Linked DNA regions of Homo sapiens. The protein of the gene in region 1 interacts with the protein of each later gene in a biochemical or structural test. Each region holds a gene or a part of one and is shown in the gene's direction. Other genes may lie near its edges.

The links.
Region 2: of the proteins of LMO7 (region 1) and DAPK3, one has a biochemical effect on the other in vitro, tested with the Homo sapiens proteins (one study listed by BioGRID).

Annotation. Positions count from the first base shown.
Region 1 is NC_000013.11:75,631,436-75,639,329, forward strand, and holds the start of LMO7 (LIM domain only protein 7), read left to right. Parts: upstream 1-4,894; 5' UTR 4,895-5,222; coding exon 5,223-5,291; intron 5,292-7,894.
Region 2 is NC_000019.10:3,957,665-3,961,324, reverse strand, and holds the end of DAPK3 (death-associated protein kinase 3), read left to right. Parts: intron 1-163; coding exon 164-316; intron 317-1,220; coding exon 1,221-1,266; intron 1,267-1,687; coding exon 1,688-2,224; 3' UTR 2,225-2,872; downstream 2,873-3,660. UniProt on the Homo sapiens protein: Serine/threonine kinase which is involved in the regulation of apoptosis, autophagy, transcription, translation and actin cytoskeleton reorganization. Involved in the regulation of smooth muscle contraction.

The DNA of each region.
Region 1 (7,894 bases):
TCATGCTTGATGCCATCACAGGTTGAGTCTTTAGAAGCTGACAGAAATGGCATTGGAGGTATAAGATATTAACTAGGGCTGGATCCCTGTGAAAGGAAGAGGGAAGAAGCAGGGGTGGGTGAGGGAGGTGAACTGTGGTACAGTCCTGCAGCCTCAGCAGACCCCAGGGTCTACTGTAAAGGCCTATCAGTGTTGTCCCATTGGGTGGAAATGGCTGGGCTTTTATAATCTTAAGTCATTCACTGACCAGATGAGGGCTGTCCTGGGAGGGGAAGGACCTCACGTGAGGCTGCACTCTGCAGCTGAGGCCAACTTTGAAGGAGCTGATAGCTGGGGGTATCTGTTGACCACACTCTCCAAGGCTGGGCAGCAAGTAGCAAGTCCTCCTGTGAAGCAAGTCCTCATATGACACTCCTATGGGGCATCTCTGTGTCTACCGCCGTTACTCATTCTGTGCATATATGTTTGCTTAGGTCCTTGGTATAAATTCCAAGAAGTGGAATTGCTGGGACAGAGTGTGGGCATTTGAAAAACTTTTTATATTTATTGCCCAGTGACCTCCCAGAAAGATTGTACCCCTTTCTCCCATCAAGAGTTCATCAGTAATGCATCAATACATGACAATTGTACTGTTTTACATTTTTAAATATTGAAAGGTATCTCAAATTCCTTTGAAAAATAAATACAAATTTTGATGTTTTATTGTTGTGAATTTCATCTCAAACTCCTAAGGCAGGTGCTGTACCTTTCTCTATAGAGCTGTAGAAATCTTTCCAGAAGGGTAAAACATTCTAATGACTGATATTAGGAGGCAAAGAATTATATTTGGGTCTTCTGAGTTGCAAACTTTCAACATTAAAGAGGCCAAGCAGTGATTGGTGCCTGAGCTGACTTGAAACAGGATTTGCAAAACCCTCCAGCCTTTCCATATAACTATTTGAACAAATACATGAAATCTCCATTTTTTAGGAAAAATCTGACACACTGTTAGAAAGAGAGACCAAAGGGAAATAACCTTCAACCTTCATTTATTGAGTGCCTACTCTATGCTAAGCAATGCCTTGGGCTTTTATATCCACCATCATATTTAATTCTCACAACAATCCTTTGAAGTATTATCCATTATTCAGATGAAGAAATTGAAGCTTAGTGATTCTGGTAGCTTGCTAATATTGTAAGGCATTCAGATCCCCAAGGCTGTGCACTTCTTAACATTCTGGGCTGCCGCCCCCAAAGCTAGTTACACAGCAGCAGCTTTAAATAGTGTAATGTATGTATATATTAACTCTAATAATAATAATTCTTGTGAAGCTTGCAGAATGTCCTACTGGACTGAATAGTGCATAGGATTCAGCATCTAGAATTTTAAAATTTTGTGTCACTTATAACATCTAGCACATATGAGGTATTCACTAATTACTTAAAAGTTTTTTTTTTTTTTTTGTGATGGAGTCTCGTTCTGTTGCCCAGGCTGGAGTGCAGTGCCGTGGTCTCGGCTCACTTCAACCTCTGCCCTCCTGGGTTCAAGTGATTCTCCTGCCTCAGCCTCCCAAGTAGCTAGAATTACAGGTGGCTGCCACCACACCTAGCTAACTTTTTTTGTATTTTTAGTAGAGACCGGGTTTCACCATGTCGGCCAGGCTGGTCTTGAACTCCTGGCTTAGTGACCCGCCCGCCTCGGCCTCCCAAAGCGCTGGGATTACAGGTGTGAGCCACTGTGCCTCGCCGCACTTAAAAGTTTTTGAATAGCCGACAAGAGAGAAATATCTTTCCATTTTCTTTCATCATTCCATTTTCTTTTGGGGTTTGGCCTGATCAGAGTGCAGCCAAGAGGCAAAGAGATGGTTCAGTCAGTGGCCTCCCTTTCAGCAGGAACAGTTGTATTCCTGAAGCTTGCTCATCAGCTTTTCTAAACGGACCCACAGACTAGAGATAGTGCCAATAAAAAGTAGTTGAACAAAAATGAGCCTAACAAACAAAAACCATCACCCCAGTACGGAAGAATGTGGGTGGTGAACTGTTTACTCAGAAGAGATAGGTTCCAATCTAGCTTTTAGAGCTAACTTCCAGAGCACAGGAAGTACAGAAAGAAGAGAAATATGTTGAAGACACCACAAAGAAGCCTAAGATAAATCCAGAAGACAGCCTGGTTTTTTCAATAAGGCAATGTCATTCCAAAAAAAGGGGGAGTGTGGAGGAGGAGGAGTCTCTTTTGGGTTAAAAAAAGATGTGCTAAAATGCAATGGGTGGTCATGGATTGGATCCTGGTCTGAGTAAGTCAGCTGTAAAAGACATTTTTGGGTCAGTTGGAAGAATTTGATATGAGTTGATAATTATTGTTAGTTTTAGTTAGGTGTGAAAATAGCATTATGTTTATTTATGTTTATGTAGGAACGTGTCTTTTCCTTTTTTTTTTTTTTTTTTTTTTTTTGAGACGGAGTCTCGCTCTGTCCCCAGGCTGGAGTGCAGTGGTGTGATCCTGGCTTACTGCACCCTCTGACTCCCTGGTTCAAGCGATTCTCCTGCCTCAGGCTCCCAAATAGTGCCACCACGTCCAGCTAATTTTTTTTTTTTTTTGGATTTTTAGTAGAGACAGGGTTTCACCATGTTGTCCAGGATGATCTCAAACTCCTGACCTTGTGATCCACCCGCCTCTGCCTCCCAAAGTGGGAGAGTGTCCTTTTAAAAATGATATGTATATTGTACCATTTAGGGGTGAAATCTCCTATCTTTAAAACTCTCCACCAGGCTCAGCACTTTGGGAGGCCAAGGCAGGAGGACTGCTTGAGGTCAGAGTTTGAGACCATCCTGGACAACATAGTGAGACCCCTCTCTCTACAAAAAATACAGAAATTAGCTGGGTGTGGTGTCACTTGCCTGTAGTCGCAGCTACTTGGGAGTCTGAGGCAAGAGGATCGCTTGAGCCCAGGAGTTCAAGGTCACGGGGAGCTATGATGGCGCAACTGCACTCCAGCCTAGGCAACAGAGCTGTCTCTTAAAAAACTTAAAAAACAAACAAGAACGGCTGGGGGCGGTGGCTCACGCCTGTAATCAAAGCACTTTGGGAGGACGAGGCAGGCGGATCACGAGGTCAGGACATCGAGACCATCCTGGCTAACACGGTGAAACCTCGTCTCTACTAAAAAAATACAAAAAAATTAGCCAGGCGTGGTGACGGGCGCCTGTAGTCCCAGCTACTCGAGAGGCTGAGGCAGGAGAATGGCGTGGACCCGGGAGGCGGAGCTTGCAGTGAGCCGAGATTGCACCACTGCACTCCAGCCTGGGCGACAGAGCGAGACTCCTCAAAAACAAACAAACAAACAAGAACTTTGGGAGGCCGAGGTGGGTGGATCACCTGAGGTCAGTTCGAGACCAGCCTGGCCAATATGGTGAAACCCCGTCTCTACTAAAAATATAAAAACTAGCTGGGCATGGTGGTGGGCGCCTGTAATCCCAGCTGCTCGAGAGGCTAAGGCAAGAGAATTGCTTGAACCCAGGAGACGGAGGTTGCAGTGAGCCGACACGGTGCTACTGCACTCCAGCCTCGGCAACAGTGAGACTCCATCTCAAAACAAAACAAAACAAAACAAAACAAAACAAAACAAAAACAAACAGAAAGTAAATACAATTTAAAAAATTAAAAAATAAAACCCTCCAGCAGAAAAGGTGATACATAAGGCAAAAGGCAAACAGTTGTTAAATACAGACGCTAGGTTTTAGATAGTATTCTACTAGTCTCTGCTCTGTATCTGACGTTTTTCTTCATAAAAACAACCAGAAAAATAAGAACAAGAGTTTGCTTTCGTTTCAGCAGAGTAAGAACCGGTCTTTGTCTTCCGCCAAAGATGAAGCCATCAACCTGTGGCCTGGATAGTGCCTCAGGAGCGTGGAGTGAGGGACCAGGGAGCTCAGACAGATGAGTAGGCTCCTTTGTGGAGACCTGATTTGAGCACTGGTGTGAAAAAGACCCGCGCAAGCCGACCCGTGTGCCTCCCGCCCCGCCCCCAACCCCCCGGCCCTGCACACCTACCCAGGGCCGCGGCGGATACCGCATAACCTGCCACCTCGCTGTCCCCTGAGTGTCCTCAAACCACGAAGGGTGGGAATTTTGACGCTCACCGCGAGGGCGATCATCAAACGGCCTAAACTGGGCTGAGCGGGCGGGAAGTGGGGAATGCAAGGAACCCTCCAGCTTGCTCGAACCCTCAGCCGCGAGCCGGGGTGGAGGGGCAGGGACCCTCCTTCCACCGCACCCACCTGGAAGCCGGGCGGAGCGGGGCCGAACTCCGCCGGGGGGAAGCGGCAGCACGTGCCAAGGCCACGACCCTCCTCTGCCGCCGGGAGGGCCCGGCCGCCGCAGGGGGCGGGGAGCGTGGGAGGGGACGGCGCTCACCTGGCGGCTGGGCCGGATCGCGGCGGGAGAGCGGGTAGCGGGCTCAGCTGGCCGGGGCTCAGGTGAGGGCGGCGGGCCGCGCTCCCCAGCGGGGGAGGTTTCTTGGCCGGGAAAGGTACAATTGTGTGCAGCTATTTCTGGTATGTCAAGCGGGCCGGGCGGCCGCGAGCCGGGAGGGGCGCCGCTCTCAGGGGCCCGGGAGAGGGCAGGGGCCAGGCGGGCGGGTGCGGGAAGGATGCGGGCGCGGGGGCGCATCCTCTCGGGGCGGAGCCGCGGGCTGTGCGGGAACCCCAGCGGGGCCCGGGCCGCGGCCCCTGGCGGACTGTGGCATCTCCCGGGCCAGACAGTCTGACCACAGAGGCGGCCGCGGCCGGGAGCCCGGGGAGCCAAGGGAGGGGCAGACGGAAGCGGCGACTCGGCGGGCCCCGGGAGGGCGGTGGGGTGGGCCGGGGCGGGGCCACCGCGGGGAGGACGGCGGCGGCGCTGCGACTTTTGAAGTCCAAACTGTCGTCGGGGCTGGTGCCGCGCGCTGCCGCTGGGCACCCGCTTCGCTTCCCGCGTCCTGCCTGACTGCCCGGGTCCCCGCGGGCCTTGGGTCGCTTTCAGGAGTTTAGAGAAAGCCAGGTCTTCACGTTCGTGTAGGTTCGAGACCTTAACGAACTGCAGAGCGCAACAAAGGGAACTAGAGCCCCGGCGCCTTCGCAGCCGGAGCGGAAGCCGGAGTTGTGGGAGGCCCGCGTGCCCTCCCCGCCCGTGGGGCCCAGACGCGCGGGGACAACCCCTCCCCTCCACGCATCCCGAGTCTCTCTCTCCCTCCCTTGTCCTAGCCATGGAAGGGCTGGAGGAGGCAGAGGCCAACTGCTCCGTGGCGTTCGCTGAGGCTCAGAGATGGGTGGAGGTGAGTGCCTTTCACTGCTTTCCCTTCCGCAGGTGTTGACTGCCTCGGGGCGGTCGTCGCGAGGTGACTGCAGCCCCAGTCACTCTGCACTTTAGCCTCCTTCGGCGACCCAGCCGACGTGAACAAGCTGGTTTGCTTGTGCACTTTTGGGGACTCTGCGGGTTCTGCCGCTCCTGCATCTTATGTCCCGCTTAGATTGGCGCTGCCCTAACCCCCGCCCCCCGACGGTGTCACTGGCTTCCTAGGGCAGAGGTGGGCGTTCGCCTGCCGGCATCGCGCGTCCCGGAGGAGCAGCGCAGTCCGCCCTGGCTCGCCCGGGGCGTCTCTGCGGGGCACAGCCCAGAGCGCGCGGTGCAGAGCTGGGCCAGGGCTCTCGGGTGCATTCCCTCGGGGTGCCTAGAAGTGGGGATGCTCACCTTATACCTGAGAAGCCAGTGTATTCAGTGTGGAGGGGGGGAGCGGAAAAGAAGGGTGGGTGGGAGGGCAGGTGGAGGAGGTAACACACCGAAGGCCCACCTGGAAGGATGATTTCTCTGGGGCCGCATCCAAGCCCAGGGGGTAGGGGCCGGGGCATGTGCTTTTTCATTTTCGGCTTTGATGAGACTGAGATCCTAGGATCATTCGCTGAAGAGCTGTTACCCTCCCAGCTGTGCCTCACAGACAAGATCTTCCATTCCCTTCTTTCACCCTGAAAAAGAGCGGGTCTCTTCATTAACGCCTTGGGGCTACATTTATCTGTAGAAGGTTAACATCAGGACTTCTAGCCGTTATTCCACTGGACGCAAAAGATGACTTTTAAAACGAGGCAAAAGTCTTCCAAGCAGATGTGAATCAGGAACAACTGCTGAAAATTGAGGCGTGCACAAGCCCTGCAGTCATTTAGGAGTTATTGATGCCACGTGCTGGTTTAGTTAACATATTTAAAACTTCGAATTAGGCTTAAAGATTATTCCACGGAAAAAACTACATGTTTAAGAATTCCAAAGCGAACGATACTTGAAAATAATGTATTTTTCCTTAAAGAAATACATGTATGTGTGTGGAAAGAAAGAATAAATTACATTTCTTACGCTAAATAAAGGAATGTGAAATGTGAGTAGCATTAACCACGGGACAGTAGGGAGGTCTAAGGAATGAGCTTTTAGTGTCTTTTTAGATTGAAACTTTGAGCTGGTCTGAAGGTGACTTAGAAAGATGTGAAGGGAGGGGCATGGGAAGTTGAGAGAAGAATAAACGCTGTATTTTGAATTGAAATGAGAGTGGAAAAATTCCAGCAATATAGTTAAGAGAAATAACTTCCCTCATTCATAAACTTTGAAAAGCCAAGACTTCCAACTGTAATTTTCCATTAGCAGTGTGTGTTCTGCATAATTTTAGAAAACAAACTTGCCATTTTGTGTTTGAGTGTTGGGGATTGAAGGAGGGAGAAGGGGAGACGTGGGGACATGTTTTGGTCATACATGGCTTCTGTGTGGAGTTTGCATCTGCGTGCTTTGTATTTGCTTCAGGAAACATGAATAGGAATGATTCCACACCCTTCCCTTTTTTTTTAGTATGCACATTTTGGAAAACGATGAATTCCTTTTTTGTCCCTGCTTGCTCATAATTATGTAGGTTTTCTCCAAGAAATTTGTATGTAATGAATGGGGGGAAAGTGTATTGTGATAAAAGATATCATTGCGCATATTACATGTGGTCTGTTTTCACTCTCATCGCAGTCTATGTAAAGGTGTTTATCAGCAATGATTTGGCACCTCTATAATGTATTTTGTTCATCGTTAGCAGAGAGCTGGATCTTCCTAAAGGTACTGTCATATCCTTTTAATATAGTTAATGAAATTAAAATTTTTTTTCATCCCACTTGGAACAAGGCAGTATGTTTGCCTTCATTGTGTATATATGAGTAATTTACATGTTCAGATACTTTTAGTATACTCTGGGCATTTGAAATGACCACAGTGTGCTCACTGTTAGGGCTATTTTGTTTCTCCAGTGTCCACATCTATCTCTCTTGTCAGCTTTGCCTTTGCCACCAAAGCACATATTTTAAAATATTGTTCTTGCCAAAAGAAGCAGGATGAATGACTCTGTCATCATCACAACCTCTTTAAGAACCCCTAATCTGAAGATAAAAGGTTGATTCCAATGTGTATTTGTAAAGTATTCTTTCCCCTGCTTGCTGATAGTCTTGCTACATTTTGCCCTATTCCTTTACACATTACTGAAATATAGGAGGGTTTTTAAGTGTATATATTGTATATGTATGTACATATATACATATGTATTATAATATATGTTCTATCTGTATTACATATATATTCGCAACTGCAGCTTTGAATACCCCAAAGTCAACTCCAATAACCTTGTAAAGTTTTGAATGATGACTGGACTCCATGTCAGCATCTCCTTGTCATTTCCATTTTCTATCTGTGATTTTTAGTAGCTAATGTGTTATTCTCACAACCAAAGTTTATTTTTTAGAGTGGAGGAGGAAGAGTGAGGTAAGAGCTAGTGGTTATTATTCTGCCAATTATGATCACTTTATGAATCTTGTTTTTACTTATTTCAAATTGTACTTATATACTTGAGTATATATAAAAATT
Region 2 (3,660 bases), on another chromosome or scaffold:
CTGGGATCGTTGCAGGAAGGTTCTAAGGGCTCAGGAGTGTGAGTGGCCCAGGCACCTGCCGTCAGCCTGTCTTCTGTGCTCCGCCTGTCGTGGGCAGCCGGAGAGGCGGCGCGGCCGTGGTGGGAGCCCAGGACCCCACTGAGCCCCCACGCCTGTCTCGCAGCCTGAGCGGTGCATCCCCGTTCCTGGGCGAGACCAAGCAGGAGACGCTCACCAACATCTCAGCCGTGAACTACGACTTCGACGAGGAGTACTTCAGCAACACCAGCGAGCTGGCCAAGGACTTCATTCGCCGGCTGCTCGTCAAAGATCCCAAGTACGAGGGGCCGGCAGGGGGCACGGGGTGGGACATGGGACACAGGCCCACTCCACCCACGGAGGCTCCAGAGGACTCTCCTCCCAGCGCCACCTCCCTGCGGCTGGGGATCAGACATTGCTTACCCCTTGGGCTGGAGAGAGTAAACTGATAAACTGGTGGCCCAAGCTGGCCATTGCCATGGTTTTTTTTTTTTTTTTTTTTTGAGACGGAGTCTTTTTTTTTGAGACGGAGTCTTGCTCTGTCTCCCAGGCTGGAGTGCAGTGCAGTGGCGTGATCTCGGCTCACTGCAGCCTCTGCCTCCCGGGTTCAGGCTATTCTCCTGCGTTAGCCTCCCAAGTAGCTGGGATTATAGACGCCCGCCACCACGCCTGGCTAATTTTTGTATTTTTAGTAGAGACAGGGCTTCACCATGTTGCCCAGGCTTGTCTTGAACTCCTGACCTCCTTGGTTTGTGATTTGCCTGCCTTGGTCTCCCAAAGTGCTGGGATTGCGGGCGTGAGACACCGTGTCTGGCTGCTTGCTGTGTTTTTAGCAAACTTTTAATTAGTTGCCGGTGTGTAAAGTAAGGATCCATGTAAAATTCCAGGTCACTTGTTTTCCTGTAAACACTTAGAATTCTGGCAGTGCTGAGCCCTCACTCGTAGGCCTCCCCGGGCCTCCATGGCCGCCCAGTCCCTCTCTCGGGCGCCTGGGTTTGCGACTCCAGCCTGAGGTCTCAGCTCTCTCCACCACCCCCCAGAAAACCCCACGCTCCCTGCAGTACCCTTGTTCAGCTTCTGTGGTTGGCTGAGCAGAGGCTGGGGGGCGACTTTAGGGCTTTTGGGGGTCCCGGGAGTCAGTTGTTCACGGGAGGACGGGACAGATGGTGCAGGTGTACCTAACCAGAGCGGGGGTCTTCCAGGCGGAGAATGACCATTGCCCAGAGCCTGGAACATTCCTGGATTAAGGTAAGTGGGGAGGTGGGGGAGCTCCCTGGGCTTCCCGCCTTGGCCTTCTCGCTGGGGTCCCGGGGGGCCTTCAGCATTTAAGGCTTGTGGATGTGACAACCCCCAGTGGCTGGGGAGGGTCCCCAGAGGAGTGAGCCTGTGTGGCGGGGGTTGGGTCCTGGGCGTGGGATGTCCAGCACCCGACAGACCTGGTGGCATCCTTGGCTGGTGTGTGTCCAACGGGGCTGACTCCTGGGGCCAGGGCCGCAGCGTTTTTCTCGAGAGAGCACTCTCGGCTTTGCGTCGGGCTGGGCAGTCTCCGTCACGAGGCGTTGACTCTGCTGCCGGATGAGCCCCTGAACCTCAGTTCACACTGGCAGGTGGGGGCTGGCGGGGCTGGGTGGCATCGCGGGGACCCCGCTCAGGCTTCCCTCCTTCCTAGGCGATCCGGCGGCGGAACGTGCGTGGTGAGGACAGCGGCCGCAAGCCCGAGCGGCGGCGCCTGAAGACCACGCGTCTGAAGGAGTACACCATCAAGTCGCACTCCAGCTTGCCGCCCAACAACAGCTACGCCGACTTCGAGCGCTTCTCCAAGGTGCTGGAGGAGGCGGCGGCCGCCGAGGAGGGCCTGCGCGAGCTGCAGCGCAGCCGGCGGCTCTGCCACGAGGACGTGGAGGCGCTGGCCGCCATCTACGAGGAGAAGGAGGCCTGGTACCGCGAGGAGAGCGACAGCCTGGGCCAGGACCTGCGGAGGCTACGGCAGGAGCTGCTCAAGACCGAGGCGCTCAAGCGGCAGGCGCAGGAGGAGGCCAAGGGCGCGCTGCTGGGGACCAGCGGCCTCAAGCGCCGCTTCAGCCGCCTGGAGAACCGCTACGAGGCGCTGGCCAAGCAAGTAGCCTCCGAGATGCGCTTCGTGCAGGACCTCGTGCGCGCCCTGGAGCAGGAGAAGCTGCAGGGCGTGGAGTGCGGGCTGCGCTAGGCGCAGTGGGGTGGGCCAGGCCCCAGGACAGCCGGAGCTCGGCCTGCGGTGGGGGCGCTTCCTGTGGACGCTGCGCCTCCCATCGCCCGGGTGCCTGTCCTTGCCCAGCGCCACCAGGCTGGAGGCGGAGTGGGAGGAGCTGGAGCCAGGCCCGTAAGTTCGCAGGCAGGGGTGGGTGTGGGACGGGGCTGCTTCTCTACACAGCCTCCACGCTGGCCTTCACCTTCACCCCTGCATCGTCGGTGACCCTGGGACCCTCCAGGCAGCGTGGCCTGTGGCACCGTGAGGGTTGGGACCCACCGAGGCGCAGAGGCGGCCCGAATGCAGCCCTGGTTCAGGCCCGGAGGAGGGTTTGCGGGTAGTTGCACGGACAATTCGGCGGGGTGCTGCCTGTTGCTGCCATTAGCCCAGGAGGAGGTCGTGGGACGGGGAGGGTGGGATGGACGGCGGACAGGCAGTCCCCACGCTGCTGGGTGGCGCCGGGCTTGGTGGGGTCTTCCACTGTGTGCCCTTCTCGCCGAGGCCGGTCCCCCGGGTGTGGGGTGCCCTGCTGCGGACTCCTCCGCGAGCCCCATCGTCGCGCCTGTGGACGCCTAGGCAAGAGCGGCCCTCTGCAGCCAAGAGAAATAAAATACTGGCTTCCAGATACGCGGGTGTTGTGTGCCTCAGGCCTTGGCAGGGGACAGCCAGCCCTTGGCCACTGGGGATATGCCCTCCGCGGCGTTCATGTTTCTCTCTGTGTTCCATGCCTGCCGCTGTGCTCAGGAAGGAGGGGACAAACCGGGGGTCCTCGCAGACCTTCACGGTGTCCTGGGAGCTGCCGGATCTTGGTCTCAGCTGCCCCGAGTGTTTTGATTGCAATGAGGTGGAAGCTCTGGGCAGCTGAGGTGGATCAGAAGCGTTTCCTGTCCCTTTGCGCCTTACGGGATGCTGCTGTGTCCCACGTGGGAGCCCCTGCCCCGTCTGGAGCCACATGCAGGTGGCCCTGGAGGGGGAGCGGCTCAGCTCAGCTGCTAGGGCTCACAGGTGGTTTCAGAGAGGGGCCCCGACCCTGTCCATCCTCCCTGGAGGAAGTTTTTTTGCTTTTTTTTTTTTTTTTTTTTTTGAGAGCGAGTCTGGCCCTGTTGCCCAGGCTGGAGTGCAGTGGTGCGATCTTGGCTCACTGTAACCTCGGTCTCCTGGACTCAAGCGGGTCTCCTGTCTCAGCCTCCCAGGTGTCTGGGATTACAGGCATACACCACCACACGTGGCTAATTTTTTTTTTTTTTTTTTTGAGGTGGAGTTTTGCTCTTGTTGCCCAGGCTGGAGTGCAGTGGTGTGGTCTTGGCTCACCGCAACCTCCGTCTCCCATGTTCAAGCGATTCTTCTGCCCCAACCTCGCGAGTAGCTGGGTTTACAGGCATGTACCACCACACCGGGCTAATTTTGTATTTTTA